7 linked regions of the Homo sapiens genome follow. The protein of the gene in region 2 purifies or fractionates together with the protein of the main gene of each other region. This does not show direct contact. Each region holds a gene or a part of one and is shown on either strand. Other genes may lie near its edges. The genes, in order: ACADSB, PRSS16, DSG1, SERPINA12, SERPINB7, NEFH and ZNG1C.

Region 1 (3,951 bases), on a different chromosome or scaffold from region 2:
TTGCCCTGTCTTGGGCCTACATTGTCGTTTTTGTTGTTGTTGTTCCTCATGCCACCTTGTCTAAGAAGGCCCACATTATCTTGACTCATTCTCTGTAAGGGCTAGACCAGGTTTTCTGTGTTTTGTAGGATGCTAAGCAGTATCCCTGGCCTCTACTCATAAGAGGCCAATAGCTTGCCTGAGCTATGACAACCCAAAATGTCTCCATCCATGGCCAAATGTCCCGTGGGGGCAAAATTACTGGACTGAGAACCACGGATGTAGACCTGTGTAACAGTGTACTCCATGAAGGAGGGGAAAGGTGGCCTTTCTCCTTATAACCTGGTAGGGAACTTTCTCTCTAAAACTATTTGCCATACTCAGTTTGTTGGCTATAGAAATTGATCTACAGTTTCAAAGATTTTTGTTGAAAGATTTCAATAGCAGCCATTGAGATTTTAAGGTGCTGTTTGCAAAGGAGTTTACAAGATAAAACAGTCAGCAGCTCACAAAAGGAACTCATCACGTGAGACTCTGAAGCCACATCCCACTTAGACCATTTCACAAGTCCACTTTTAGAGTAACAAGGCCCTCAATGAGGGTGATAGCACCGATGATCAGAAAGGAAGACATGTTAATAAAAGAAGACTTGAGAAGATGTGGGAATTATCTTGAAATGGAGGAATTAGATGGACTACACATTTTCTAAATGAAATAGCTTAGTGATAGGCAAAGATTGGGACATCTGGAGAAAAAGTAATTTAGGGTGACAGAAGAAAGGTAATTCTGTTTTAGACACGTTTTAGGTATTAATAAAACTTACAACTGAAAGTGTCTTAGAAGCTGGTCAGAAATGGGTCTAGAAAGTGGACCAGTGCTAAAGCTATGGTAAAAGGAAAACTTCATCTGAATTAAATTTAAAGGAGTTTAATTGAGCAGCAAATTGGGCAGCCCCCAGAACCACAGCAGATTTGGAGAGACTCCAGGGATGCCTTGTGGTCATAACAAATTTATAGACAAATGAAGGGAAGTGACAAATCGGAAGTGAGGTACACAGTGGCTGGATTGGTTACAGATTTGCAATTGTCTTATTTGAACACAGTTAGAACACTCAGCAGTCCATGAGTGGTTGAAGGATGGCTGCTGGGATTGCCCAAGACGCAGCTACTGTTACAGGCGCATACTCCTAAGTTAGGCTTTCAATCTTGTCTACCTATTAAGCTAGGTTACAGTTCATCCACAAGGACTCAAATATAGACATACGGAGTCCTTCTCAGGCAATATTTAGTTTGCTTTAAGAGCTATAAATGCTAGCCAAAACCATAAATGGGTATGGGGCATCGGAAGGATAGTGAAGAAACAGGAGTGGACAAGTCAGCCTTTGGGGTACAGTTCAGACCATCCTGGGTAAATGTTGAGAAGCAAAGAAGCAAAAGGAGACTTAGTAGGATATCAGAGGAAATTCTGTGACATATGTGTTTTATTCAGAATTGGAGCAAAAGAAGGAAAAGGATATTTAAAAGCAAACATACAGAATTTGTGTCACATAAAAAAAACAAACCTGTGAGAGCAGAAGCGGTGTGTTTTGAGAAGTGCAAGACATGGCAGGGCCAGCTAATGGAGCTGGTGGAATGCATACTGAGGAGGTTGTGAACGTGGTTCATGCTCCCTTCACTCAATTTGGTAACCCCCTGTCCCCAGCCAGTGTTGAATATGCAACCCCTGATATGGAACTCTGGTCTTTTGGCATCTATTTAAGTGTTTCTTCTGACTATCTTCCCTGAAAAAGAGGGTGAGTTGAAGAAATTCCCAATGCCTGTTAAGTTGTTGGACCCAAGTAATTATGTGATTAAAAAAAAATTTAAACTCCATAATAGTCCTATCTTTTAAAATTTCTTTGAAAATAGAAGTGAGTGTCTTGTTTCATTTTTGTCCACTGGTAATTTGGGAAAGAGAAATTGTTGACTTGGCTAAGGTCACAATAAAGGCAAGCCCAACTCCTTTACCTTATATTTATTTATTTATTTTTTTGAGACAGAGTTTCATTCTTGTTGCCTAGGCTGGAGTGCAATGCGTGATCTCAGCTCACTGCAACCTCCTCTTCCCGGGTTCAAGTGATTCTCCTGCCTCAGCCTCCCAAGCAGCTGGGATTATAGGCACCTACCACCATGCCCGGCTAATTTTTGTATTTTTAGTAGAGACAGGATTTTACCATCTTGGTCAGGCTGGTCTGGAACTCCTGACCTCACGTGATCCATCCACCTAGGCCTCCCTAAGTGCTGGGATTACAGGTGTGAGCCACCTCACCGGGTGGACACAGTTTCTAATGGCCGGCATTTGCATGTCTAAGCTTGCTGTCCCAGCTTGAAGAGCCGGGCTTTCCTGCTAGACAAGAAACGTTCCTGGAGCTGCTTTAAAAGAAACAAAAACTTCCCAAGGACACCTTTTCCTCTCTATAGGCCTAAAATAATTTTTTAATAACTCCCATAATGAAAGTCGGGGGTGGCTTCCAGGCTATAGGTAAATTTAAACATTTTCTGGTTGACAATTGGTTGAGTTGGGCTAAAAACCTGGGGTGAATAGAAAGGAATGTCTGGGTTGTGATAAGAAGTTGTAGAGACCAAAGTTTAATCATGCAGATGAAGCCTCCAGGTAGCCGACTTCAGAGAGAATGGATTGAAATGCTTCTTATTAGGCCTAAAGTTCTGTGTTGATGTTCATGCTGGTGAGGTATAATGAGGTATGTTCGACCCCCACTTCCCATCATGGCCTGAAACAGTCTCTCAGGTGAAATTTTAAGACCCCTGGCTAGGGAGGAAGTCTGTTCAGCTGGTTTGGGGGGCCTTAGAATCTTATTTTTGGTTTACACATGATTAAAAAATACTTTAGCTCCATAATAATCCTATCTTTTAAAATTTCTTTGAAAATAGAAGTGAGTGTCTGGTTTCATTTTTGTCCACTGGTAATTTGGGAAAGAGAAATTGTTGACTTGGCCAAGGTCACACTACAGGCAAACCCATTTCCTTTGTGTTGATTCCCTTGCCTTGTGTCTTGTCTTGGCTTATTTAACCCTCTTTTGAGGGAATCACTATAATTCTTAAAAGGGCAAGGCATTGTTAGGAACTCCTAAAGACTAGAATGAAGAATCAGAGACTGGTAGATGGGAAAGGTTGCGTTTTTAGCAGTTTTGGAGAATACCTAGAACAGAAGCTATTATTTATGGAGAAAGCAAGCAGAGGTTGGACAGATTCTGGTATAGAAGTTTTGGCTTGGGGATATAAAATTGGGATCAACTTAAAATCTAATCCATTGGTACACTGCTAATAAAGGCATACCCAAGACTGGGTAATTTATAAAGAAAAAGAGATTTAATGGATTCGCAGTTCCACGTGGCTGACGAGGCCCCACAATTGTGGTGAGGAAGGTGAGGGAGGAGCAAAGGCACGTCTTACATAGCAGCAGGCAAGAGAGAAGTGCAGGGGAACTGCCCTTTATAAAACGATCAGATCTTGTGAGACTTATTCACTATCACGAGAACAACACAGGAACAACCCGCCCCCATGATTCAGTTACCTCCCACTGGGTCCCTCCCATGACACATGGGGATTATGGGAGCTACAATTCAAGATGAGATTTGGGTGGGGACACAGCCAAACCATATCAAGCAGGTATGAACAATTTGGCTTAGGAAATCAAAATCAAAACTGAATATAGTGTTAAGTATTTTTTCATTAAATTCTAATAAATTGTTGACACAATTCTCATAAGCCGTATCAATTCCTGTAATTTTAAAGCCCATAAAGTAGTTTAATTTTCCTTTGGGGGTGGTGAGAGAATTTGTTTAAACTTCATTTCAGATAATTGTAGATTCTTATGCAGTTATAAAAAGAAATACAGATAGATCCTGCATCTTGTTATCTGATTTGCCCCTGTGTAACACTTTACCAACCTATAGTACAATATCACAACCAG
Region 2 (4,647 bases):
TCGCTGGGAATCCCTGAAGATTTCCCCATTCTGGGGGAAACCCGGATCCAGAGACATGAATGGGTGAATCTGGCCAGAAACCAGGGCCGTTTTCTCATGACGTGTTTCCAAGTGTTCTCCAAGCCACATACACTTCCCAGAACATGTGTGCCTAGGCCAAGGGAGACCCTGTCCTCGTCCACTTTCTAGAAAGCCACCACCCTCTTTCCCTTCTCGTTTTAGGTAGGAGAGGAAAAATTTCCAAGTCAGTTTAGATGAAAACCTGACAAATGTAGGGAAGGGTTGAGGGCACTCAAGGAGGGCTACTAAGAGGAGAAGGAGGGGTCCTAACCTGATGAGTTGCAAGGTATTGGGAGAGAGAACAGACACAAAGAGAAATGGAGAGTGAAGTTTGGATATGTCTAACATCCTCTTTCTCCTCCCAAGGGCTTTCTTTCTTCCCTAACCTTTCTGAATGGCTTGCAGTTGGTACCATCCTGTTGCAGTTAGAAAACCGTTTCGCTTGTAGAAAAGATTAAGATGCAGAGAGACAGAGATGGAGACAAAGAGGCACAGATGTAGATACAGAGACGGAGAAAATGAGACAGGCAAACAGACTGTTACAGACACAGACAGAGATACCAATGAGGAAAGAAAAAGCTAAGTTCTGTAAGAATAAAGCAGATGAAAGAAACAAAAAGCAGGTGAAGTAAAGTTGGAAAAATGGTGGCGGTCGTTAATAGGAGTGAGATGCACTGAAGGAGGCTGGGGTGAGAGGCATAAAAACATCTAGGGGAAGGCCACGCCATGCAGAGGGATGAGTTCAAAGGCTCAAGGCAGGAATGTGCGTGTAAGTCTGGAGGACAGTGAGGACTTCAATGTAGCTGGAGCCCAGTGAAAGTGAGAGAGTATAGGTCAGAGTTAACTAGAGGCCAAAACCCACTGGACTCCATGGCGACTGTAAAAGCTTTGACTTTACTCTGAAGTCAAATACAGTCAAAATTGCTTTACTTCTGAAGCAATACAGAAGATGTCTGAGGGACTTAAGCCAGGGAGGATCATGTCCTGGTTTATGCTCTAACAGAATTACTCTGATTTCCACCTGGAAGTCAAGGGCAGAGCAGGAAAAATGGTGAGAATGCTGTGGCCGTAATCCAGGTAAGGAATGCTGGTGGTCTGCACAGTGATACAGTGGCTTACTTCAGACAGAGACGCAGAAATAGAAAGAACACAGGATAAGAGAAAGACAGATAGGGAGAGTCAGAGACCCAGAAATGGAAAGAGAAAAAACAAGACCCTATGAAACACAGAAGAAAACAGAGGGAACCAGAGACTCAGAGGTTGACTTCAGACAGTGGAGGAGAGAGACACAGATGCAGAGATGCCAAAGCACAGACATTCCTGTCCTTTGACCATAAACACTTTCCCTTCCTCCACTCACGCAAGGCGGCTGGACAAGAAGCGGAGCTGGGCCATTTCCAGGCCTCCAGCAGGTATACTCAGGCCATAAAATCTGTGTTCCAGGCTTATCACCAGGGCGCCCCAGGCTGGGGCCAAGGCTGCGGGATGGCCTGTGAAGAGTGTATGGGTGGGGGGTGGGGAGGTGAGATGCAAGTTGAGTTTAAGCCCTTTCACTCCTCAGGTCTCACAGCATTGCAATATGCAGCTCCCCTTCCTGGTCCCCACCAGCATCCCAACTCCTTTCCCCCAACATTGCCTCTTACCTCTCATCACTGAGCCAGGCCCAAGGCTGCCCTCACCCCCTAGATGCAGGAATATGGGTCCATCCTGGCCAACCCAATGTTGGTCATTCACCCAGTAACGCTGAGAGGTGGGATGGGGAAGAAGAAATGGCACTGTGAGAGTCCTGACTTATTCTCAATTCCTCATTTGTTCCAGTCTCTCTTCCTAATGGATCTTTCCTTATGTACTTAACAGTGTCTGAAATGAGCTTGTTTATTTACTTGCTCACTTTTCCCCTGTTCATCTCCTCATCTAGAATGCAAAATATACAAAAGCAAATTTTTGACCTGGTTTTTCACTCTTATATCCCCAGAACTGAGGGAGTGGCTCTCACATTGAAGGAACTTGCTATTTCTTGAAGTAATAATTGTAAAATAAGAAATAAATGCAGATGGATTTAGGAATAAGATCCAAGTGGGATGATATTTGGAGACTAAATACAGAGGAAGCACTGAAAAATGGCGAATTTGTTCCTTCTTTCGATAGATATCTTTGAGTGCCTGTTGTGAGCTAGGTCTGATTCCAAAGCTGGTTCAAATTTCTGCTACCTACTGAGACCTGGTGGTAGGTTTTGTGTCCAGTCTGGACAGGGACAAGGGGGTAGGGAGGAGCAGTGAATGTGAATGACAGAGAGAAAGAAATGGTGAAGGGCAAGATCTGAGGGACAAAACGAGTGGGACCCCGAGGAGAGGAGAGAGTAAGGCCAAATCTACAAAGGGCAGGAAAAGGGATACTGACAGCAAGCATAACATGAGATTCAAGCAGAGGGATGGGGAGAACTGAGGTGTGGAGAGAGAAAAAAGTGCAGACTGAGGAAGAGATGAGGGAGACTGAGGAGAGGGCAGGATGGTTAGTGGACTCCCCGTCTCCCGGCCTCACCTGTAGGAAGGATCGTCTGTCGGACACGTTGAAGGGGTCCAGCAGTTGCTCCAGCCACCCCACTTTTGGGAGGGCTGCAGCACCTGGCCCCAGGCTCAGGCCCAGGCCCTGGGCAGAGCTCTCCTGAAACTGCTGAATGTGCTCACCCAGGCGCCTAAGAAGGGAGGCTGTGGGACATGGAGGGAAGGAAGTCAGGCTGGCCCCCTTAGGATGCCCTGCTTGACCCTCAGCCTCCTCTTACCTGGAGCCAAGAGTCCCCAGAGGGAAACCAAGAGCAGAGGGCCCAGCCACTGGGCAAGCCAGACGGCCATGGTGTTCGGGACTCTGTTCTCCCCCAGGAGGACCTTTATCTTATCCTCAGCAGCCGGGCCTTAAATCCATCACCTTTCAGCAGAGGCTCAGGTTTCTTTCCTTTCCTGGCAGGTCAAGCGTCTGTAGGAACTGCTAAAGCGGGGCAGGGACGCCAGAGTCTGTACACAGAGGCTGCTGATGCAGCATCGGAACTCCCAGTTTCTTCTCTCTGGGCCTCTCAGTCTGTTCTTCCCTCAGCTCTCAGTAGCCCTCGCTGTCTCAGTCTCCTCCTCTCCGCTCTTCGGTCTACCTTCTCTTTATCTCAGATTCCTCCTTTGCATGCCTTATTGTCCTTCAACCTCTGTCTCTCCCCACCTCAGCACCTCCTCTGGAACCCCAGTTGCCCACTTATTCTCAGTCTTTTCTTTCTGCCCCTCAGCATATCTTCAGTACCCCTCAGTTGTTCCCACACTCAGTCTTTCCGTCTCTTTTTTCTCAGTCCCCCATCTCTTTTTCAGTCTTTCTCTCCATACTCATCTCTTTGTCCCCCAATCTCACCTTGTCTATTTTCCAGCCCCCTCACTTTCTGCTCTGCTTCACTGTCCCGAGCTTCTCTGACCCACAATCTCACACTGTCCATAGACTCCTTACAGTTCTTTGAACATACCAGGCTTGCTTCTGCCTTAGGGTTCTTATTCTTGTTGTTCCCACCCTATGGATTGTGATTTCCCTATATACCCACGTGGTTTGCTCCCTCACTTCAACTGGATCTTTATTCAAAGGTCATTCATTCAGAAAGGTCTTCCATGGTCAGCTTTTTAAAAATTGCCAAACCTATGGCCCTCTTCTATTCCTTTTCAAACTTTATTCCTAATTCTTTTTCATGGGACTTATCACTATGAGAAATATTGTACATTTAAAAAGTTATTCCCATAAATTTAAAAAATATATCCAGAATCTGATGACTTCTCACTACCTTCAGTGCTACCACTGCTGAGCCACCATCATCTCTGACTTGGGATATCATGGAAGGCTTTTAGCTGGTCACCCTGTTTCTGCCTCATGATTTATTCTACACTCAGCAGACAGAGAGACAGAATTAAATATTAGCCCAATCATTCACAATCATTCACTCCCTGGTTTAGAACACTTCCCTGATGCCCCATCTTACTCAAAGTAAATCTAAAGTTTTGAAAACAGTTTTTAAAACTCTGTATGACCTGGCCCCCTGTTGTATATACTGTCATGATTTCATCTCCTACCCCTCCTGGGTTCACTGCTCCAACTGCATTGGACTATTTCATATTTCACAAGACTCACTCCTTCCTTAGAATTTTTGCTCTCCTTAGGATGCTTTTCCTCCAAATATCTGCAAGTCTTATTTTATCACTTCCTATAGTTCCCCATTCATATATTTTATCTTACCAAATGGGTTTTACCTGACCACCCTTATAAATGGCACAACACCTGAGACCCTGTCCCCTGATCCTTCTGTTGTCACTCCCTGATAGTGATGACATTTTATTGCACTTCTCTCCCAAACCATTCCCCAGGAAGTAAGCTTATTCTGGGAAGCAATTTTGTCTGTTTTGTTCACTGGTGTACCCATAACACCCAAACTACTTCAAGGCACTTGAAAGGTTCTCAATGAATATGCAGTGAGCAAAAGGCTATATGGATAAATTGATTAATTAATGAATTAGTTTTCTGCTCAGGAAAGAATTCCCTAAGAATGTGACCTAAGAGTTGAGGCAA
Region 3 (3,951 bases), on a different chromosome or scaffold from region 2:
GGTAACCCGACCTTTCTCTCTGGCTGCCCTTAACATTTTTTCCTTCATTTCAACTTTGGTGAATCTGACAATTATGTGTCTTGGAGTTGCTCTTCTCGAGGAGTATCTTTGTGGCATTCTCTGTATTTTCTGAATCTGAACGTTGGCCTGCCTTGCTAGATTGGGGAAGTTCTCCTGGATAATATCCTACAGAGTGTTTTCCAACTTGGTTCCATTCTCCCCATCACTTTTAGGTACACCAATCAGACGTAGATTTGGTCTTTTCACATAGTCCCATATTTCTTGGAGGCTTTGCTCATTTCTTTTTATTCTTTTTTCTCTAAACTTCCCTTCTCGCTTCATTTCATTCATTTCATCTTCCATTGCTGATACCCTTTCTTCCGGTTGATCACATCAGCTCCTGAGGCTTCTGCATTCTTCACGTAGTTCTCGAGCCTTGGTTTTCAGCTCCATCAGCTCCTTTAAGCACTTCTCTGTATTGGTTATTCTTGTTATACATTCTTCTAAATTTTTTTCAAAGTTTTCAACTTCTTTGCCTTTGGTTTGAATGTCCTCCCATAGCTCAGAGTAATTTGATCGTCTGAAGCCTTCTTCTCTCAGCTTGTCAAAGTCATTCTCCATCCAGCTTTGTTCCGTTGCTGGTGAGGAACTGCGTTCCTTTGGAGGAGGAGAGGTGCTCTGCTTTTTAGAGTTTCCAGTTTTTCTGTTCTGTTTTTTCCCCATCTTTGTGGTTTTATCTACTTTTGGTCTTTGATGATGGTGATGTACAGATGGGTTTTTGGTGTGGATGTCCTTTCTGTTTGTTAGTTTTCCTTCTAACAGAGAGGACCCTCAGCTGCAGGTCTGTTGGAGTACCCTGCCGTGTGAGGTGTCAGTGTGCCCCTGCTGGGGGGTGCCTCCCAGTTAGGCTGCTCGGGGGTCAGGGGTCAGGGACCCACTTGAGGAGGCAGTCTGCCCGTTCTCAGTTCTCCAGCTGCGTGCTGGGAGAACCACTGCTCTCTTCAAAGCTGTCAGACAGGGACATTTAAGTCTGCAGAGGTTACTGCTGTCTTTTTGTTTGTCTGTGCCCTGCCCCCAGAGGTGGAGCCTACAGAGGCAGGCAGGCCTCCTTGAGCTGTGGTGGGCTCCACCCAGTTCGAGCTTCCTGTCTGCTTTGTTTACCTAATCAAGCCTGGGCAATGGCGGGCGCCCCTCCCCCAGCCTCACTGCCGCTTTGCAGTTTGATCTCAGACTGCTGTGCTAGCAATCAGCGAGACTCCGTGGGCGTAGGACCCTCCGAGCCAGGTGCAGGATATAATCTCGTGGTGCGCCGTTTTTTAAGCCCGTCGGAAAAGCGCAGTATTCGGGTGGGAGTGACCCGATTTTCCAGGTGCCGTCCGTCACCCCTTTCTTTGACTCAGAAAGGGAACTCCCTGACCCCTTGCGCTTCCCAAGTGAGGCAATGCCTCGCCCTGCTTCGGCTCGCGCACAGTGGACGCACCCACTGACCTGCACCCACTGTCTGGCACTCCCTAGTGAGATGAACCCGGTACCTCAGATGGAAATGCAGAAATCACCCGTCTTCTGCGTCGCTCACGCTGGGAGCTGTAGACCAGAGCTGTTCCTATTCGGCCATCTTGGCTCCTCCTCGAAACCAATTCATGTGATTTTTTTGTGTATGGTTTTATGTCCAAAGTACACAATTATAAATAAGTCCATCTAAGTAAATTTTTAAAATCATAGTATTAGAATTATACTTAAAATGATTTCTAACCAAATTATTTCAAATAATTATAAAATGATTTTTAGAGCATCTCTAGTATGTTAAAATCTTGTTTTATTTCATTCCTCTTTGGAAATGCTCTGGAAGAAAAACTAATGATAAAGGCTGTTCTATTATTGTTAAATATGCATTCATAATTTCATTTTCTCTTTCTCCTATAAATTCAGAAAGCATATGCTTACGCAGATGAAGATGAAGGACGCCCATCTAATGACTGTTTGCTCATATATGACATCGAAGGTGTAGGTTCCCCTGCTGGCTCTGTGGGTTGTTGTAGCTTCATTGGAGAAGACCTGGATGACAGCTTCTTGGATACCCTGGGACCTAAATTTAAGAAGTTGGCAGACATCAGCCTAGGAAAAGAATCATATCCAGACCTTGATCCTTCTTGGCCACCACAAAGCACTGAACCAGTTTGCCTTCCTCAGGAAACAGAGCCCGTTGTTAGTGGACACCCACCAATCTCCCCACATTTCGGCACTACCACAGTAATTTCTGAGAGCACCTATCCCTCGGGACCTGGTGTACTGCATCCTAAGCCTATTCTCGATCCTCTGGGCTATGGTAATGTCACTGTGACCGAGTCTTACACCACCTCTGACACTCTGAAGCCCTCTGTGCACGTTCACGATAACCGACCAGCATCAAACGTGGTAGTGACAGAGAGAGTGGTCGGCCCAATCTCTGGCGCTGATTTGCATGGAATGTTAGAGATGCCTGACTTGCGAGATGGGTCGAATGTTATAGTGACAGAAAGGGTAATAGCACCAAGCTCTAGTCTACCCACCTCTCTGACTATCCATCATCCTAGAGAGTCTTCAAATGTGGTAGTGACAGAAAGAGTAATCCAACCAACTTCCGGCATGATAGGTAGTCTGAGTATGCACCCCGAGTTAGCCAATGCCCACAATGTCATTGTGACAGAGAGGGTTGTTTCTGGTGCTGGCGTAACTGGAATTAGTGGCACCACTGGGATCAGCGGTGGCATAGGCAGCAGTGGCCTGGTTGGCACCAGCATGGGTGCTGGGAGCGGTGCCCTGAGTGGAGCTGGCATAAGTGGTGGTGGCATTGGCCTGAGCAGCTTGGGAGGGACAGCCAGCATTGGCCACATGAGGAGTTCCTCTGACCATCACTTTAACCAAACCATTGGGTCCGCCTCCCCTAGCACAGCTCGAAGTCGAATCACAAAGTATAGTACCGTGCAATATAGCAAGTAGTCAGGACCCCAGCTCACTTTTTCATAGTCATTGTGGTTTAGATCCAATTCCCACCACTAAAAAACCAACAATGTGATTTATAACGCACAACTTCGTGCTCAGGTCATCTAGGAGCAAGGTGAGAAATCACAATGAGAAAAATAAATGGAAACACCACTGCTAGGGGAGAGCTCTCCTTAGCATTCATAAACTTTTCTCTTATATTAGGACTAAGGAACTAAAACTTGAGGCAGAGTCTTCTTTGTGCCTGAGTGGCCTGTAGTCCATCTCCAGCATGTAACTGGCCTTACGATGGCAATTGGCATCATTCTCCTTGCTCTGTTTTGCTTTTCCATATAGCTCGAGCAAAATTCAAAAAGAACTAAATATGCAATATATGTTCATATCTATGGGAAAAATCTAAAATGTGTGCCAGATGCCCTGTTGGTTTCACAGATAACATAAATAAAAATTCAACCACAGATTTATACAAGGGTTAACCATTTTTTTTAAGTTTGACTACATAGTCAAGTCCACAAGCCATCAAGCACTCCTACCTTAATTATTGCACTAGAGAAAATAAATTCCAAATTAGGAAGTGTTTCCTAGGAGGAAAATTCCATTAGAGAGTGGCAATAGGATGAGGTTTCTTCAGGGTAAACTAGCAATGCCTGAGCCTGAACCTTAATGTGGGGCCTCAGTTAAATCTCCTGTGGAGTCAAGGATTCTTCTGATTCTAGTGTGTGTTTAGTGATAGATGTAGTCTTGACGAATATTGCTTACTGGTGAGGTTGAGGAATATCACACTCGTCTTTCCCTTTACCACTGTGGTTTTGACTTAAGAAAGCAAAACTCACTAAGTTTACTTCTCGAATTGAAGCAAGTGAGGCCTGACATGGTTGTCATCACTAGTGGCAAATGACCTTCCAAGTAAGCAGATGGGAACTGAATTGTGTTTTCAGGTTTTGTTTTTAGTAGGTGATATTCATTCGT
Region 4 (3,500 bases), on a different chromosome or scaffold from region 2:
AAATCAATAAGCTTTTTAGGCCAACATGCTTTTAGCATCTCTCTGCAGAATTAGGGCTGGAGATTAAGGGAAAACGTAGCTAAAAGTCTTGTCTCCCAGAAGCTCACAGTGGCCGTTGGAAGATGTCAAAGCTGAGAGGTGGATGAAAGGAGCAGCAGTCCAGAGCCAGGCAGACCTGGCTGTTCCTCTCCCATGGTGCCATCCTCTTCCCTCCCTGGGAAGGGTGTAGGGAAGAAGGTTTCCTGGAGATCTAAGTCCTCCTGGAATGAGTATCCACCACCTAGAGAACATATGAGCTTAAACAAAGAGCTTGATCTCTGTAAATTAGTCATAATTCTTTTGGCTGAAGGGGAAAAATTTACCTCAAACCAGCCAACTCTAAAAGGGAAATTTATTGGCTTTCATAACTTGGAAACATGGAAGTGGGTAGCAAACTGAGTTAAAGGTTAGTCCAGGGTCTCCAAAGATGTCATCAGATGTGTCAGTCCATTTCTGTCTTTCCACCTCCCTCTATCACTCTCCTCTCCTTCTACATGTGGAAACCATGGCCACATTCAGCTCCAGGGCTACTTCACAAAGCTAGCTGCCCCAAAGCTTAGGGGGTTTTGCATTCCCTTAGAAAGACACTGAGAGGTCTGATTTTGGTCCACACTCTCATCTTTAACCAGCCAGTGTGGCAAAGGAATGAAGTATTATGATGGTAGGTCTGGGCCATATGCCTACACTACGGGGTATCCTCACTGTGGTCCAATGGAGGGAAGGAGAGCTGTTCCTCAAAGGAATTGAGACACTGTTTCCATAAAGAGGGTACAAAAACAAGAGTTGTCTTCTACATTCAGTCCTCCTATTTACAAAGTGTAGAAGTCATTTCTAGTCCCCAGGGTGATTATAAAGTTTAAATGCTATAAAGGGGTCAAAGCACTCATAAACTGCTATGTACAACACATAATAGTCACTGTATTTCTTCTTTCATCTGGTCTTCCTCTGGGTAACATGTAGGCAATGGGGTTATCATGTTCTTTTTTTCTGCTGACCTCAGGTCTACTACTCAACAGGATATTCTTCAAGGAAAATGAACCCCACACTAGGCCTGGCCATTTTTCTGGCTGTTCTCCTCACGGTGAAAGGTCTTCTAAAGCCGAGCTTCTCACCAAGGAATTATAAAGCTTTGAGCGAGGTCCAAGGATGGAAGCAAAGGATGGCAGCCAAGGAGCTTGCAAGGCAGAACATGGACTTAGGCTTTAAGCTGCTCAAGAAGCTGGCCTTTTACAACCCTGGCAGGAACATCTTCCTATCCCCCTTGAGCATCTCTACAGCTTTCTCCATGCTGTGCCTGGGTGCCCAGGACAGCACCCTGGACGAGATCAAGCAGGGGTTCAACTTCAGAAAGATGCCAGAAAAAGATCTTCATGAGGGCTTCCATTACATCATCCACGAGCTGACCCAGAAGACCCAGGACCTCAAACTGAGCATTGGGAACACGCTGTTCATTGACCAGAGGCTGCAGCCACAGCGTAAGTTTTTGGAAGATGCCAAGAACTTTTACAGTGCCGAAACCATCCTTACCAACTTTCAGAATTTGGAAATGGCTCAGAAGCAGATCAATGACTTTATCAGTCAAAAAACCCATGGGAAAATTAACAACCTGATCGAGAATATAGACCCCGGCACTGTGATGCTTCTTGCAAATTATATTTTCTTTCGAGGTAAGGCTTTTGGCATGTTGGTGTGGAAAGAATAGGATGACCACTAGACTTGGGTTAAAAACCTGGGTTGGCCACTTGTTTACTCTGTGACCTTGAATTCATATGTGATTTATCTCTCAAAACCTCACTTTTCCTATCTGTAAAATGGTTACCATGATACATAACTCATACAGTTATTGAGATTTAAAGTGAAAATGTATGTGAAATGAGCTTTATGAAGTCTATCATTTTCATTATTGGTGATTATCCTAACACAACATTGGTTATAGAGGTTGGAATGACATTTTGTTCCCATCACTTAGATGAGAAAAAAAAATCAGAGTGAGATTAACTGACTTACTCCAAGTTACAAAGCCCATCATTGACAGTCAGGACTGGAACACATTTCTCCTGGCCCTAGCACTGTGTGCTTTCCAGCACTTTAAGCAGACACCTGAGATGGTGATTGTGTTGATTATGGTGATGGTGATCACTTGGTGGGTCTCCTTATGTATGTATTATATAAATTCTCCTTATCAGACTTTATATATTTCCCAGATCTGATGGAGAGAGACAGAAAAAAAAGATGGAAGAATGTTTCCAATTTCAACTTTATCCCCCAACACCACACAGAACACATGTACACAAACAGGTTGGCCAAAATAGGTGAGAATCAGAGGCCAACACCCATCAGTCCAGACAAAATCACTGCTGGAGTGTCAGGAACATGGTACTAAATATAAAAAATTGAGGGTTCTCAAAATCCACAGGCAGATTGATGGCTAAAGAAGAGTCTACTCACATCAGACTCAATTAGCCCTCATTAATTGTAATGCAGTCCCCTCTGTTAGGACATAATCAGTGGGCTTTCTCAGGCTTAGGGGAACCTGAGCTTATGGTAGTCTTCTTTTCCCCTCTTAATTTGGCAGTCTAGTCCTGGCTTCTTTGGGAACTAATAATTGCACCTGAGCCCATATCATCAGAAATCTCCAGGACATGGCATGAGGGCAAGGACTTCCCTGATATCCCGGAATATCCCCTTTCACCCTGAATCTGTGTGGAGAGAGACTACTGGTTAGTTGGATTTAGTCACCTTTTTTCCCTTGGGATAACATGTCTGTTTGTCTTTCTTCAATCTAAGCCAGGTGGAAACATGAGTTTGATCCAAATGTAACTAAAGAGGAAGATTTCTTTCTGGAGAAAAACAGTTCAGTCAAGGTGCCCATGATGTTCCGTAGTGGCATATACCAAGTTGGCTATGACGATAAGCTCTCTTGCACCATCCTGGAAATACCCTACCAGAAAAATATCACAGCCATCTTCATCCTTCCTGATGAGGGCAAGCTGAAGCACTTGGAGAAGGGATTGCAGGTGGACACTTTCTCCAGATGGAAAACATTACTGTCACGCAGGTAAAGTGGGTGCCTAGCCCTCGCAGCTTTTTCCTTCTCTTGTCTTCCCTCTTATTTCTGCTGTCTGAGCTCTTACCTCATGGCCAAGTCCTCTTCTGGGCTCTATAATAAACTTATATCATGGTGAGAATTAGACTGGGGAACAAATCATAGGAATAGAGTGAAGTGCCTGGCTCTTTGAGGGAGATTCATCAAGACTGTGAGGGCGCAGTAGATGGAGTCTTACTGGAGGGCGGTGGTCAGGGAGGACTTCATAGAGGAGATAGCATTTGAGCCAAGTCTTCAAGGGTGAGTGGCAGTCTGTATGAAAGGGTGAGGAGCAAAGGAAACTGCAAGGACAAACACGGGCTGTAAAAGAGAGCTGTGAGTTGTGAGTAGAATGATGTTGTCAACTGTGGTGTCA
Region 5 (3,951 bases), on a different chromosome or scaffold from region 2:
AGTACAGTAACATGCTATACAGGTTTGTATTTGGGAGCAATAGGCTATACCATGTAGCCAAGTTGTATAGTAGGCCATACCATCTAGGTTTGCATGAGTACACACTGTAACATTCACACAATGACAAAATCACCTAACCATACATTTCTCAGAAAGAATCCGTGTAGTTAAGTGATGCATGATTGTAATAAGTAGAAGGTTTAAAACTTTGAAGAGCAGACATCAGTCAAATTATATTTTATAACTTATATTTATATAAATGTACATAGCCATTTATATTTTTCTCAAGACATTATGTCATAATCAAATATGACTTCCAATATGTTCTCAGCCTTTACTGGTTAAACTTTCCTCCTTGAACTGTTTCAAAGATTAGCGAGCTGGTCCCATCAACTCCTGACCCCTCATTTTAGGAAAGAAGGATACAAAGGGACCACCTAAGTTCAAGCTGGCCACTGCTCATCTCTCTCTCCATCTTATACTGAGATGATGGACAGTAATGACTTTCATTTGAAACTTTTCATTTTGGGAGCCCTGAGAGACAAACTTCATCTATTTTCTGACATAGGATGAAACAATTATAATGATGTAGTCCAAAGTATAAAGATACATGCTTTTATTTCCTTTCTTATAGTAGTCCAAATAAATAATTCCATGGAGTGGAAGGTCCCTGTTGAACCTCCCTTTCCTAGTAACAAGTGACCAACTCCACTGTTCGCCACTGCTCACCAATGAAGTCGCAGCTGCAATAAAATTGACTAAAAAACTGAGGGAGGATTAAGGATACAGAGTACCCAGTATATTCTCTCTCTGAATTCTTTCTCTCAATTGGGAAGAGATAACTGCCATATTTTTAAAGGTATTGAAAATCCACATTGGCCAAGAGCTTATTCTATTTTCAAGTAGAGATGTTGCAAAGATGCAAGATTCTCAAAATATAGTGAAAGGTTGAAAATTAAAAGACTTATGCTTTCATCATCTTTTCTTTATCATAACATGCATAAATGTTCTTATAGACTGATATGACAGGTCCTTCAGTACCATATGCTCACAGTGACAGTTTATCTAAAGACTAAGAAAGCTCTTCTATAAATCAAATGCTGATGTTCCCAGGCTGTTGAACCAGAATTGTTCAAGGGTCTCTGTCACTCAGTCACTGCAGGTTCTAGTTCAAAATTTTGGATTTTGAATTTTTCCATAGGTGAAAACATGCCATGCATAGTCACTATTGAAATAAAAATCACTTGCAAATAATTAGGTGATAAAAACTACAACTTAATAACAGCAATGACTTCTTGAGCTTTATTGTAAGTATGGACGTTTCTAAACTGAAAAATATTAAGCTTTCCAGTTTTATTATATTATGAATTTAACAAATTTTTCTTTAAACTAAGCCCACTTAATATAAAAATCCCCAAATTAAACACATTTTAAATTTTATAAACCTCCGTAAAATAATTTTGAATTAAAGGAGCAGAGGGGGCAAGTGCTGAAAAGTTCTCTTCTTTTGTCAGAAGCCACCATGGTGAGGTTGATGACAACAATGATGGTGGGATTAGTTAAAAACAGTCAGCTTTGGGGAGGAAGCATTTAATCACTGTTATTCTGTATATACACTGCTATGAGAAAAATCCTCTATCAGACTAATATGGTCAAAATTATGCCTGATACACAAAATATAGTTTTTAAATTTGGTTGGTACAAATGATTTCCTTAACTCAATTTGTATAGTGCCTCCTTTGTGTGAGACAATGTGTAGTTATAAACAATAAGAAAGAAATATAAGGGATAATATCGAATATTAGAGATAGTACAAATTCTAATTATGAGTTTGTATTCTCGATAAGCTGAAAGTTAGGGGAAGCTCCACATGTTGAAAACACTGTAAAACATGGGGTAGGGAGGGAAGGGGAGAAAGAAAGAGTTTTAAGTGTTCATATGGATTTGACCCAGCCATCCCATTACTGGATATATACCCAAAGGATTATAAATCATTCTACTATAAAGACGCATGCACACGTATGTTTATTGCAGCACTATTCACAATAGCAAAGACTTGGAACCAACCCAAATGCCCAGCAATGATAGACTGGATAAAGAAAATGTGGCACATATGCACTATGGAATACTATACAGCCATAAAAAGGATGAGTTCATGTCCTTTGCAGGGACATGGATGAAGCTGGAAACCATCATTCTCAGCAAACTAACACAGGAACAGAAAACCAAGCACTGCATATTCTCACTCTTAAGTGGGAGTTGAACAATGAGAACATATGGACACAGGGAGGGGTACATCATAAACCAGGGCCTGTCAGTGGGTTGGGGAGGCTAGGGAAGGGATAGCATTAGGAGAAATACCTAATGTAGATGATGGGTTGATGGGTGCAGCAAACCACCATGGCATGTGTATACCTATGTAAAAAACCTGCACATTCTACATATGTATCCCAGAACTTAAAGAATAATAAAAATAAATAAATATTTTTTAAAAATGGTGATGACATAGAGTTTTAGAGCCTATTTAAGTAAAACAGTGCTTTTTTGCATAAAATGACATTTCAAGAAATTTAGGAATAATCATTGGTGGGAAATGTTGATAGGTTCCATGATTCCAAAATTACAAAAAATAACAGGAAAATCTGGTAGGTAAAACTTAACAAATATTAAATTAACACATGAATTGATGACCTAATTTGTATTGGCCCAAATGTTAAAATTATAGCTGCCCAGTCACTTCAGAAAGAGGCTTATTCATTCCATAAATCACAAAATAGTCCACAGGTATTTTTATTTTTATTTTTTTTTGAGATGGCGTCTCACTCTGTTGCCCAGGCTGGAGTGCAGTGGTGCTATCTCGGCTCACTGCAAGCTCTACCTCCTGGGTTCACGCCATTCTCCTGCCTCAGCCTCCCGAGTAGCTGGGACTATAGGCGCCCACCACCACAACCAGCTAATTTTTTGTATTTTTAGTAGAGACGGGTTTTCACCGTGTTAGCCAGGATGGTCTCGATCTCCTGACCTCGTGATCTGCCCGCCTTGGCCTCCCAAAGTGCTGAGATTACAGGCCTGAGCCACCGCACCCGGCCAGTCCACAGGTATTCTGAGTTACATCATTGTATAGTGAAGAAGGTGGTCACATTTCACTGACTATATTGAAAACTGTAGAGTTCCGCTGCTGAAATATGCTTTTCATTCAGTGTCAGACTGGGAGAGCTGTGCACTGAGGCATTAATATCCGTGTGTGGACTGACTACCAGACAAGCATGATTTAATTGGAAGCGATATCACCATAGCATTTATGTAAATTGGCACAAATTCCAAAATCCTAGTAAACCTAAGAGAAAATCAAGTTGTGGTAAAGAAAGAAAATGCAATAAAAATTAAAACCAAGTATGCCTGTTGATGTGCATTCAGAGTCATGGGGAGAATCTGCTCTAAGATACTAATGAACTTGGAATGGCAATTAGACACATTTATTGGGAAAGAATATTTTTATTTTTAAAACCTCTTGCAAACTGTTCTCGTAACCTCTGATTCTAATGATTGCTTTCCTTGTGCCCTGTTTACAGTTGCTTCATGTTAACACTGCCTCAGGATATGGAAACTCTTCTAATAGTCAGGTAAAGACAATATGTTCTTTTAGAAAAAGAGAAGGTGAGCCAGGTGCAGGGGCTCAAGCCTGTAATACCAGAACTTTGGAAGGCTGAGGCGGGTGGATGACTGGAGCCCAGGAGTTCAAGACCAGCCTGGGCAACATGGCAAAACCCCATCTCTGCAAAATATACAAAAATTAGTTTATAATCCCAGCTACTTGGGGGGCTATGGTGGGAGGTTAGCTTAAACCCAAGAGATGGAAGTTGGAGAATGTGGAACTATCCTTTCAAAGCAAAGAAACATGCTTTATTCAGATTTCCAGATTGTGAATTTTTCAAGTAAAATTTTTGATAA
Region 6 (3,951 bases), on a different chromosome or scaffold from region 2:
TCTCTGGAGGCTTGCTGTCTTTTTGGTCTGTGCTGGAGGATTTTTCAGCCTTTTCTGCCTTAGGCTTGCTAGGCTCTTTTGAGAGGGTCTTGTCATCTTCCTTGGCTTTGGCCTCTGTCTTGGGTTTCTCCTCAGGCTTCTTGGCCTTCTCCTCCTTGGTGTCTTTTTTCTCCGGTGCTGCCTCCTTCTTCTCTGCTGGTTTGCTGGGTTCCTTGGCCTTGGCATCATCTGGTTCCTTCTTGGCTACCTCTGTCTTTTCTTTGGGTTTAGCGTCTTCCTTCACCTCCACCTTGGCAGGAGCCTCCTTCTCTGGGGTGGGGACTTTTTTCTTATCTTCAGCCTCTTCCTTCTTGGCTTCAACTTTGGATTCTTTGGGCTTTTCGACAGCAGGTTCCTTCTTCTCCTCCACCTTGGGCTTTGGAGCCTCCTTCTTGGGTGCCTCCTCTTTCTTGCTGTCCTTCTTCTCCTCTGTTTTTGGTGTGGCAGGGGCTTTCTCTTCCTCTGCCTTCTTTGGGGGCTCTTTGACTTTCACCTCCTGGGGCTTCTCCTCCTCCTTCACTGGGGACTTCACCTCTTCCTTTTTTGGGATCTCCTTCTCAGGGGCCTTGGCATCCTCCTTCAGGGGAGATTTCGCCTTCTCTGGGGACTTGACCTCCTCCTTGACAGGGCTTTTGGCCTTTTCAGGGAATTTGTCTGCAGGGGACCTTGCTTCCTCCTTCGCTGGAGTCTTGGCTTCTGGAGACTTCACATCAAGAGTCTTGGCCTTCTCTGGGGACTTGGCCTTCTCTGGGGACTTAGCTTCTTCCTTCACTGGGGACTTGGCCTTCTCGGGGGTCTTTGCTTCTTCCTTCACTGGGGACTTGGCCTTCTCAGGGGACTTTGCTTCTTCCTTCACTGGGGACTTGGCCTTCTCAGGGGACTTTGCTTCTTCCTTCACTGGGGACTTGGCCTTCTCAGGGGACTTTGCTTCTGCCTTCACTGGGGACTTGGCCTTCTCAGGGGACTTTGCTTCTGCCTTCACTGGGGACTTGGCCTTCTCAGGGGACTTGGCCTCTTCCTTCTCTGGGGACTTGGCCTTCTCAGGGGACTTTGCTTCCTCCTTCGTTGGAGACTTGGCCTTTTCCGGGGACTTGACCTCAGCTGGAGATTTTGCTTCTTCCTTCACTGGGGACTTGGCCTCAGCCGGTGACTTTGCTTCTTCCTTCACTGGGGACTTGGCCTTCTCTGGAGACTTGGCCTCAGCCGGTGACTTTGCCTCTTCCTTTGCTGGGGACTTGGCCTTCTCGGGGGACTTGACCTCAGCTGGAGATTTTGCTTCCTCCTTCTCTGGGGACTTGGCCTCAGGCGGTGACTTTGCCTCTTCCTTTGCTGGAGACTTGGCCTTCTCAGGGGACTTGACTTCGGCTGGGGATTTTGCTTCCTCCTTCTCTGGGGACTTGGCCTCAGCCGGTGACTTTGCCTCTTCCTTTACTGGTGACTTGGCTTCCTTCTCTGGGGATGCAGCCTCTTCTGCTGGGGGAGACTTTGTTTCTTCTTCTCCCCCTTCTGCCTCCTCTTCTTCACCCCCTTCTTCCTCCTTGCCCTCCTCCTCTTTGGCCTCTTTCTCCTCTTCTTCAGTCACTTCTTCAGTCACTTGGGTCTCCTCTGTCTGTTCCTCCACAATCACAGTTTCTTTCTCAGACTTCTCCACCACTTTGATCTTCTCTTCGCTTTTCACCTTTATGTGAGTGGACACAGAGGGAATTTTGGGGAGTCCTTCTGGAAGCGAGAAAGGAATTGGGCCAAAGCCAATCCGACACTCTTCACCTTCCAGGAGTTTTCTGCAGGATGGATCACGGAACACATTAGTATAAACTCAGGGCAAATTCACTATTTGGGTTCTTCCTAGACTATCCTGAAGGTCACTGACATCGAATGATATGGGTTTTGGTGGAACAGGAATGTGAATGGTGGGCATTATGAGACTAGAGAAAGTCACTTGGCAAATCATTCCAGTGACCACCCAGAATGTGTACCCCGGTGGGACTGGTCTTTTTTTGTTGATGTTGTTGTTTTTGAGAGGGTCTCACTGTGTTGCCCAGGCTGGAACAGCTGGTCTTCTTCAACACAGCTAAGCCTGAAACTTTTGAAATAAAACAACTTTTGCCCCATAAAAAATGGCCCTCAAGAGAAAGCTCCTAAATAAATTTAACAAAAGTTAAATTTATTGTCCCTCAAACTAAAATATTATTCAAGAGAACCCTGGGAGCCTGAGCAAACAATTCCACTTTTTTTTTTCCTTTTTTTGAGACGGAGTCTTGCTCTGTCACCTAGGCTGGAGTCCAGTGGTACAATCTCAGTTCACTGCAACCTCTGCCTCCCAGATTCAAGCAATTCCCCCAGCTTCAAGCAATTCTCCTGTCTCAGCCTACTGAGTAGCTGGGAGTACAGGCGCACGCCACCACGTCCAGTTAATTTTTGTATTTTTAGTAGAGACGGGGGTTTCACCATATTGGTCAGGCTGGTCTCGAACTCCTGACCTCAGCCGATCCACCCGCCTAGGCCTCCCAAAGTGCTGGGATTACAGGTGTGAGCCACCGCACCCGACCACAATTCTACTTTTATAAATTTGGGTTTAAGAGGTCTTAGAACGCTCCCATTTGAATCGCGAGTGTCTCTCATCACCCTGTATTACCATCTTTTGAGTTTCAGGAATAGGGTAGAGGCCGCAGTTTCTCCTCTTGGCTTTGCTCCTCACTAGATGGGTGACCTTGGCCAAGACACACCAACTCTTTGAGCCTCAATTTCCTCACTGGAAAAAGAGGGTCATTAGAGTCCCTACGTCAGAGGGTTGTTTCAGTGAGACAATGAATGGAAAAGACTTGGCAGAATGCTTGTCTCAGAGTAAGTGTGGGGGTTACCCCTCAGACTAGTACTTCCCAAATTTAGCAGCACACAGATGACCGGGGATCTTATCAAAATGCAGATTCTGATTCAGCAGGTCTGGGGAGGGGCTGAGCGTCTGTCTTTTGTTGTTGTTGTGTTGTTGTTATTTTTGAGACAGTGTCTCACTCTGTGATGACAGGCTGGAGTGCAGTGGCACGATCATAGCTCACTGAAGCCTCCAACTCCCAGGCTCAGGTGATCCTCCCACGTCAGCCTCCTGAGTAGCTGAGACTAAAGGCATGTGCCACCATGCCCAGCTATTTTTTTTTTTTTTGTATTTTTTGTAGAGATGGGGTTTTGCCATGCTGCCCAGCTTGGTCTCTGAACTGAAACAATCTGTCTGCCTTGGTCTCCCAAAGTGCTGGGATTACAGGCATGAGTCACTACACCCAACCAAGAGACTATCTTTCTGATAAGCTCTTGAATGATGCCAATTCTGCTGGTTCATGTGCCATGCTTTGAGTAGCAAGATTACAGACGAGAGCCAAGAGGTAGGAAGCCACAGGTCACCAGTCAGAACTGGGACAAGTCCTCAGGGAATCAGTCCTGCTCCCTAGCCCTGCTCCCCCCGGTCTTATTCCTCAGACTGGATTTCTCAAGGCTGCCACTGACTAAGGGTTCCCTCTGTAGCAGCCCAGTGGTACCTGTGCTTCCTGGATTAGCTTGGGAATGGGATTAGCTCATCTTCCTGACAACCCTATGACATGGTTGCCCTTATTATCATCTCCACTTTATATCCCCAAGAAATGAATGCTTGCAGAGCTAAGAAACTCTAAAGGACAGAGTTTGAAAGGTCCCTGACTCAAGCACCTCTTTTCCCTTCAAAGCAGGCCTCTGGCTGGCTGGATCTGGGGAGGGGATAAGGAACTTCCACCGTCTAAATCATTTCAGAATGAAAGTAAGTCACTCTCAAGACTCATTGGCTGGGCACAGTGGCTCACGCCTGTAATCCCAGCACTTTGGGAGGCCGAGGTAGGCGGATCACCTGAGGTCAGGAGTTCGAGACCAGCCTGGCCAACATAGCGA
Region 7 (4,486 bases), on a different chromosome or scaffold from region 2:
AAACACTCCTACAAGTTGAAACAGTTTCTTCAACCTAGCCTAACCTTCCCTAAAATTGACACACAATCTTTTATTTATAGTGACCTTTTATTTCAACATTAACGAGACGCAACTTCAGGCTGACTATATGGCTACTTATAGTATGCTTTAAACAATCTATAAAAGTTTTTATGAAATGGGGAATAGAGCCAGGTAGTGTCAACAATGAACAGAATGTTCAGTTAAGATAAATTCATAAAGCTATACCAACTTTATCCAGCAGGTGGCATATGAAACCCAATATGTCAATCTCCAGTAGAAAAAAAAGTCTTGTGAACCGTACACACTAAAATTCATAGAGGAAAAAAAGAAAATCCTAACTGCATAGTATTGTAGTTCAATTGTATGACTATATCATTTCTTTATCTTTTTTTTTGTTGGACATTTGGTTTGTTTCCAGTGTTTTACTATTACAGTGCTGCTAAAAACTTTTACATGTAGGCTATACATGTCTTCTGAAATAAAGTTTTCTAGTATATAACTAGATCTTCCTACAACTAGGAAGATTTTACGGAGTATTAGGGTATTAATATCTTTTAGGTCATATTCCTTTCAAAGCTTTTTAAGAGATGAAGGCTTATATTTAGAGTACTTTAGGAAGCTCAACATCACAAAAATATGAAGTATAGTATGGAAGAGAGAGACTTAGGGCAATGAGGAAGATCTTAAAACCAGTCCAAGCCTGAGACAGAGGCCCTGAACATGAGTGTTTCACAGGGCAGTGATGTGAAAACTGAAAGGAAAGGGTGAATGTAAGAAATCTTCTAAGAGAAGATTTACTAGGGCTTTTTAACCATATTATGAAAAAAAAAAACACTTTAAGACATAGTTCATTCATTCAAAGGTTTCTAATACGTTACAGATTTATGCTGGGCCTTGGTGAAAAAGTGAACAAGATAGTCTCTGCCTTCATAGAGCTTAGAAATATTAAGGGAAGGGGGGAATGGAGGGGAATTCAGTGAATAAGGAGGCAATTATGTCACAGGGTGACATATTCAATAGGAGATGCACAAAATGCTATGGAGAACCTAAGAGGGACATCTAGCCAGAGGAGTCACAGTAAAAAAGTACCTATTCCAAGGGGCTAAAACACTTGGCACCTTTGAAGTAACCTTAGTTTATTGTGCGGGGCCAATTTGGCAGGCTGGAAAGGTTGGCAAGATCCAGATCCTACAGGTCCTTGTAATTCATGTTAAGGAATTTGAATTTTAACCCATAGGGACGCCACTGAAAGGTGTGACGCAGTCGGATTGACATTTATAAAGATCATTAAGGCTAACATGCAACGAATAAATTAAAGGGCAGCAAGACTCCAGATTAGTCAGGAGGCTTTTAGAGTATTCCAAATGGTTGGGATCACAGAAGCAGGATTTGGGGGGATGGTAACAGACGAAGTTTCAGACATGTTAAGTTTTAAGTTGTAGGACATCAAAATAGAAATTACACAGGTGTGTAGCTAAAGATGGACAAAGGGGGAAGGAGGAGGGAGCCTTAAAAAGAAGCCAGAGAAGCAGGTGGAAAAATCAGAAGAAAAATGTAATAGAAGCCAAAGGAACAGTGTTTCAAAAAGGGAAAATGGTCAGGGATAGGAGTGAAACTATCCCTAGATTCAGCAACAAGGTTGCTGGTATTAATTCTCACTCCTGAGCTTCAGATCATTTTCTCCAATGATCTACTGACCTACCAGTGAGCAACACGGGAAAGGCCCGAGGGGCACGTTTGAAATACATTGTTTTGGACAAGAAATTTGTTCATCTTCTCAGTAGAGCAGCCTCTGAATAACTGTGGGGAAACGCCAAAAATAAATTCCTTTATAAAATTACTTCCGAGCAAAAAACGGGAATAAACTTACAGTCTACAAAGTTTTTAAAAAAACAAAAGCAGTTATTTCTTATTTTTACATAAAAGGTCACGAAGTGGCCCAAGTCTGTACCTGTCTCTAGCAACAACTAGGAATATTATTTCCCGGAAACAGTATTATTTTATTTACATTTCTTAACTTTTTCCAAACTTCTAATACAGTCATATATTTGTTCTAGCCCTTCTATTTAACTGTAAGGTTTAAAAATATATTTCTCAAACTTTTCCAGTAAGAAACTTCTAGTGTAAGTGCATAAACCGCCCTTCACGAAACTACCAAGTTCACAAACTTGTGGTTTCGAGTATCCCTGTACACTCTAAACGTTCTTAGTTTGAGAAATAGTCTTGGAGGACAGAGATTTTATTCTTACTTCCTACGCAGTGGTTTACAAACAGACCTCAAAAGAAAAGTGTTTAAGATAGGAGCACTTCCTGCCAACTGGCTGGAGGACTTTGGCTCCTGGGGAAGGGGAATCTGCTGACGAAAGCCCCACGTGTCGGGCATTTTACAGACGGGACATCCTTTAATGGCAATAGGTAGGTTGTTCCGGCCCTATTTCACAGGTGACAGGTATTTTTCCATTTTCAGGTGAGGTAGATGAGCGTCAGGAAGGTAAGATAACTTGGTAAGAGGTCACAGAGACAATTAGGGGGGCGTGTCTTAGCTTCAAAGCCTTGTTTCAAAGGCTAACTTTCCATCTCACTTGAGAAATGGGAATCTAACGCAGAGGGGACCGGGCATCATTAACTCCCAAGATGAGAGGTAACCCATACGAGAAGCAAGTGACCCAGCCCCTACCTCAAAGACATTTGCTCTTGATCATGAGGCCCCAATGCCTCAGGAGAAGAGGCACCGGCAGCCCGCAAAATCCCATGACACCAGAGTTCACGGCATTTTGTGACTGGGATGGTTAGTTACCTAAATACCCGGTGATAATTGTGACTGGGATCTTGGCGCCGAGGCCAGACTTTTCCTCCTCCTCGCTTTGCGTCGTCTCAATGGGAACCAATTCAGGACAATCCTCCTCCGCAGGATCCTCTTCCTCATCCACAGATCCAACAGCCGGTAACATTCCGGCCTACAGCACGTCCCTACCTCAGCTGAACCGCTGGGACCAACACGCCGTACCGCAGCCGCGCACGCCCAGCACGCCACTCCCGGCCTGGCCGGGGCCTGACGTCATCACATCGCGACGCTAGCTGATCCCGCCCGGATTACCTGGGCTCTGGACGAGAACTGCCTCGTCCCTTAGCCACACCCCCCGGGGAGGTGGGCTCTCCCCGACGACAGCTGGACACGCCCCTGGGCGTGTTCTGTGAACCTGAGCGACGCTGCGGAGAGTCCTTAGGGCGCACTAACCACCTGTCTGAAGGTGTCACTGGCGCCTAGAGCCTTAATAAGCTACTGGCTGTAGGTAGAGCTGAGGCCAGCCTGCTGGAAATCTGGAGTGGGTAGCCTGACCTAACCAGTTCCCACAGGGCATAGATTTTATCAACTTGATTTTTTAGTCTCGTTAAAAAAAAAAGTTTTAATTCATAGGGGAAAGAATGGAAGGTTATAACATTACAATTTTAATTGTAATTTTTATACCTGAAGGATAACCAGTGACAATTTTTTCTTTTTTTATTATTACATATTATATATGTAATTCCAAATTTTTAGTATTCATGCATCACTTTTATTTACTTTTTTCTCATTATTTATTTGGACCTCAGGTAACCTAAGTTCATTAATCATATTTGCTGGTGCATGACACTCTCATCACTAATCCATAGATAGCCCTTCTTTCTAATATAAATTTATAGTGAACTCCTTTGACCTCATTCCTAACATAAAAGCATTACCAGTAAGCTACACGTACCTATGTGCACCGCCCCCGCTTCCAATCCACAGCCTGCCCCATAAGATAGTAACAACAGTCATGAATTGGTTCTGGATTGCTGATCCTTCCCTGTTTTCTTTTTAGTTTTATCACATATCCCACGTATGTACTTAGAGAATATGTTGTTTAATTTTGGGTGTTTTTGAGCTTCATAAAATTATCCATATAATATATAAACTCCTGAGGCTTGCTATATTTTTCAGCATCACTGCTGTCTTGTATTCTATTGTGTGGCTACACGGCAATTTATTCATTTCCTCTCAATTGTTCCAGGTTTTGCTCTTATGAACAGGGCTGCTATGAACATTTTTCCTGACATATGTGTGTGCAACTTCCTCTTGAGTGTCTAAGAGTTGAATTGCTGGGTCCTAGATTATTCAAATGTTTTACTTCACAAGAAAATGCACAATTATTTTTCAAAATGTTTGTACAAATTGATACATTTTCCCAGCAAATTATAAGAGATCTCATTGGTCTGTATGTCAATATTATCAGGCATGCATTTTTCACCAATCAATTGAGTACAAAAGAAGACTTCATTGTGATCTTCATTTGCATTTCCTTGATTACTAACAAGGTTGAGAATCTTTTCATGTGTTTTGGCAATATGTAATTCTTAGAATGACCCTGTAGAGTGTTATCCCTCTTTCAAACATGAGGCACCAAGAGTTAAGTTACTTGTCCAGGTTAGGTCATAAAAATCT

The links.
Region 1: the proteins of PRSS16 (region 2) and ACADSB fractionate together in Homo sapiens (co-fractionation; one large-scale study listed by BioGRID). This does not show direct contact.
Region 3: the proteins of PRSS16 (region 2) and DSG1 purify together in Homo sapiens (affinity purification with mass spectrometry; one large-scale study listed by BioGRID and IntAct). This does not show direct contact.
Region 4: the proteins of PRSS16 (region 2) and SERPINA12 purify together in Homo sapiens (affinity purification with mass spectrometry; one large-scale study listed by BioGRID and IntAct). This does not show direct contact.
Region 5: the proteins of PRSS16 (region 2) and SERPINB7 purify together in Homo sapiens (affinity purification with mass spectrometry; one large-scale study listed by BioGRID and IntAct). This does not show direct contact.
Region 6: the proteins of PRSS16 (region 2) and NEFH purify together in Homo sapiens (affinity purification with mass spectrometry; one large-scale study listed by BioGRID and IntAct). This does not show direct contact.
Region 7: the proteins of PRSS16 (region 2) and ZNG1C purify together in Homo sapiens (affinity purification with mass spectrometry; one large-scale study listed by BioGRID and IntAct). This does not show direct contact.

Annotation. Positions count from the first base shown.
Region 1 is NC_000010.11:123,015,326-123,019,276, forward strand, and holds part of ACADSB (short/branched chain specific acyl-CoA dehydrogenase, mitochondrial isoform 1 precursor), read left to right. Parts: intron 1-3,951. UniProt on the Homo sapiens protein: Short and branched chain specific acyl-CoA dehydrogenase that catalyzes the removal of one hydrogen from C-2 and C-3 of the fatty acyl-CoA thioester, resulting in the formation of trans-2-enoyl-CoA.
Region 2 is NC_000006.12:27,246,003-27,250,649, reverse strand, and holds the start of PRSS16 (thymus-specific serine protease), read right to left. Parts: upstream 2,950-4,647; 5' UTR 2,913-2,949; coding exon 2,843-2,912; intron 2,769-2,842; coding exon 2,602-2,768; intron 1,804-2,601; coding exon 1,704-1,803; intron 1,551-1,703; coding exon 1,421-1,550; intron 1-1,420. UniProt on the Homo sapiens protein: Protease that may play a role in T-cell development.
Region 3 is NC_000018.10:31,352,368-31,356,318, forward strand, and holds part of DSG1 (desmoglein-1 preproprotein), read left to right. Parts: intron 1-1,532; exon of another isoform or gene 1,533-1,569; intron 1,570-1,929; coding exon 1,930-2,979; 3' UTR 2,980-3,951. UniProt on the Homo sapiens protein: Component of intercellular desmosome junctions. Involved in the interaction of plaque proteins and intermediate filaments mediating cell-cell adhesion.
Region 4 is NC_000014.9:94,495,970-94,499,469, reverse strand, and holds part of SERPINA12 (serpin A12 precursor), read left to right. Parts: intron 1-1,039; 5' UTR 1,040-1,072; coding exon 1,073-1,706; intron 1,707-2,826; coding exon 2,827-3,097; intron 3,098-3,500. UniProt on the Homo sapiens protein: Adipokine that modulates insulin action by specifically inhibiting its target protease KLK7 in white adipose tissues.
Region 5 is NC_000018.10:63,788,821-63,792,771, forward strand, and holds part of SERPINB7 (serpin B7), read left to right. Parts: intron 1-3,572; coding exon 3,573-3,623; intron 3,624-3,951. UniProt on the Homo sapiens protein: Might function as an inhibitor of Lys-specific proteases. Might influence the maturation of megakaryocytes via its action as a serpin.
Region 6 is NC_000022.11:29,486,718-29,490,668, reverse strand, and holds part of NEFH (neurofilament heavy polypeptide), read right to left. Parts: intron 1,821-3,951; coding exon 1-1,820. UniProt on the Homo sapiens protein: Neurofilaments usually contain three intermediate filament proteins: NEFL, NEFM, and NEFH which are involved in the maintenance of neuronal caliber. NEFH has an important function in mature axons that is not subserved by the two smaller NF proteins.
Region 7 is NC_000009.12:68,240,518-68,245,003, reverse strand, and holds the start of ZNG1C (zinc-regulated GTPase metalloprotein activator 1C), read right to left. Parts: upstream 3,022-4,486; 5' UTR 2,973-3,021; coding exon 2,819-2,972; intron 1-2,818.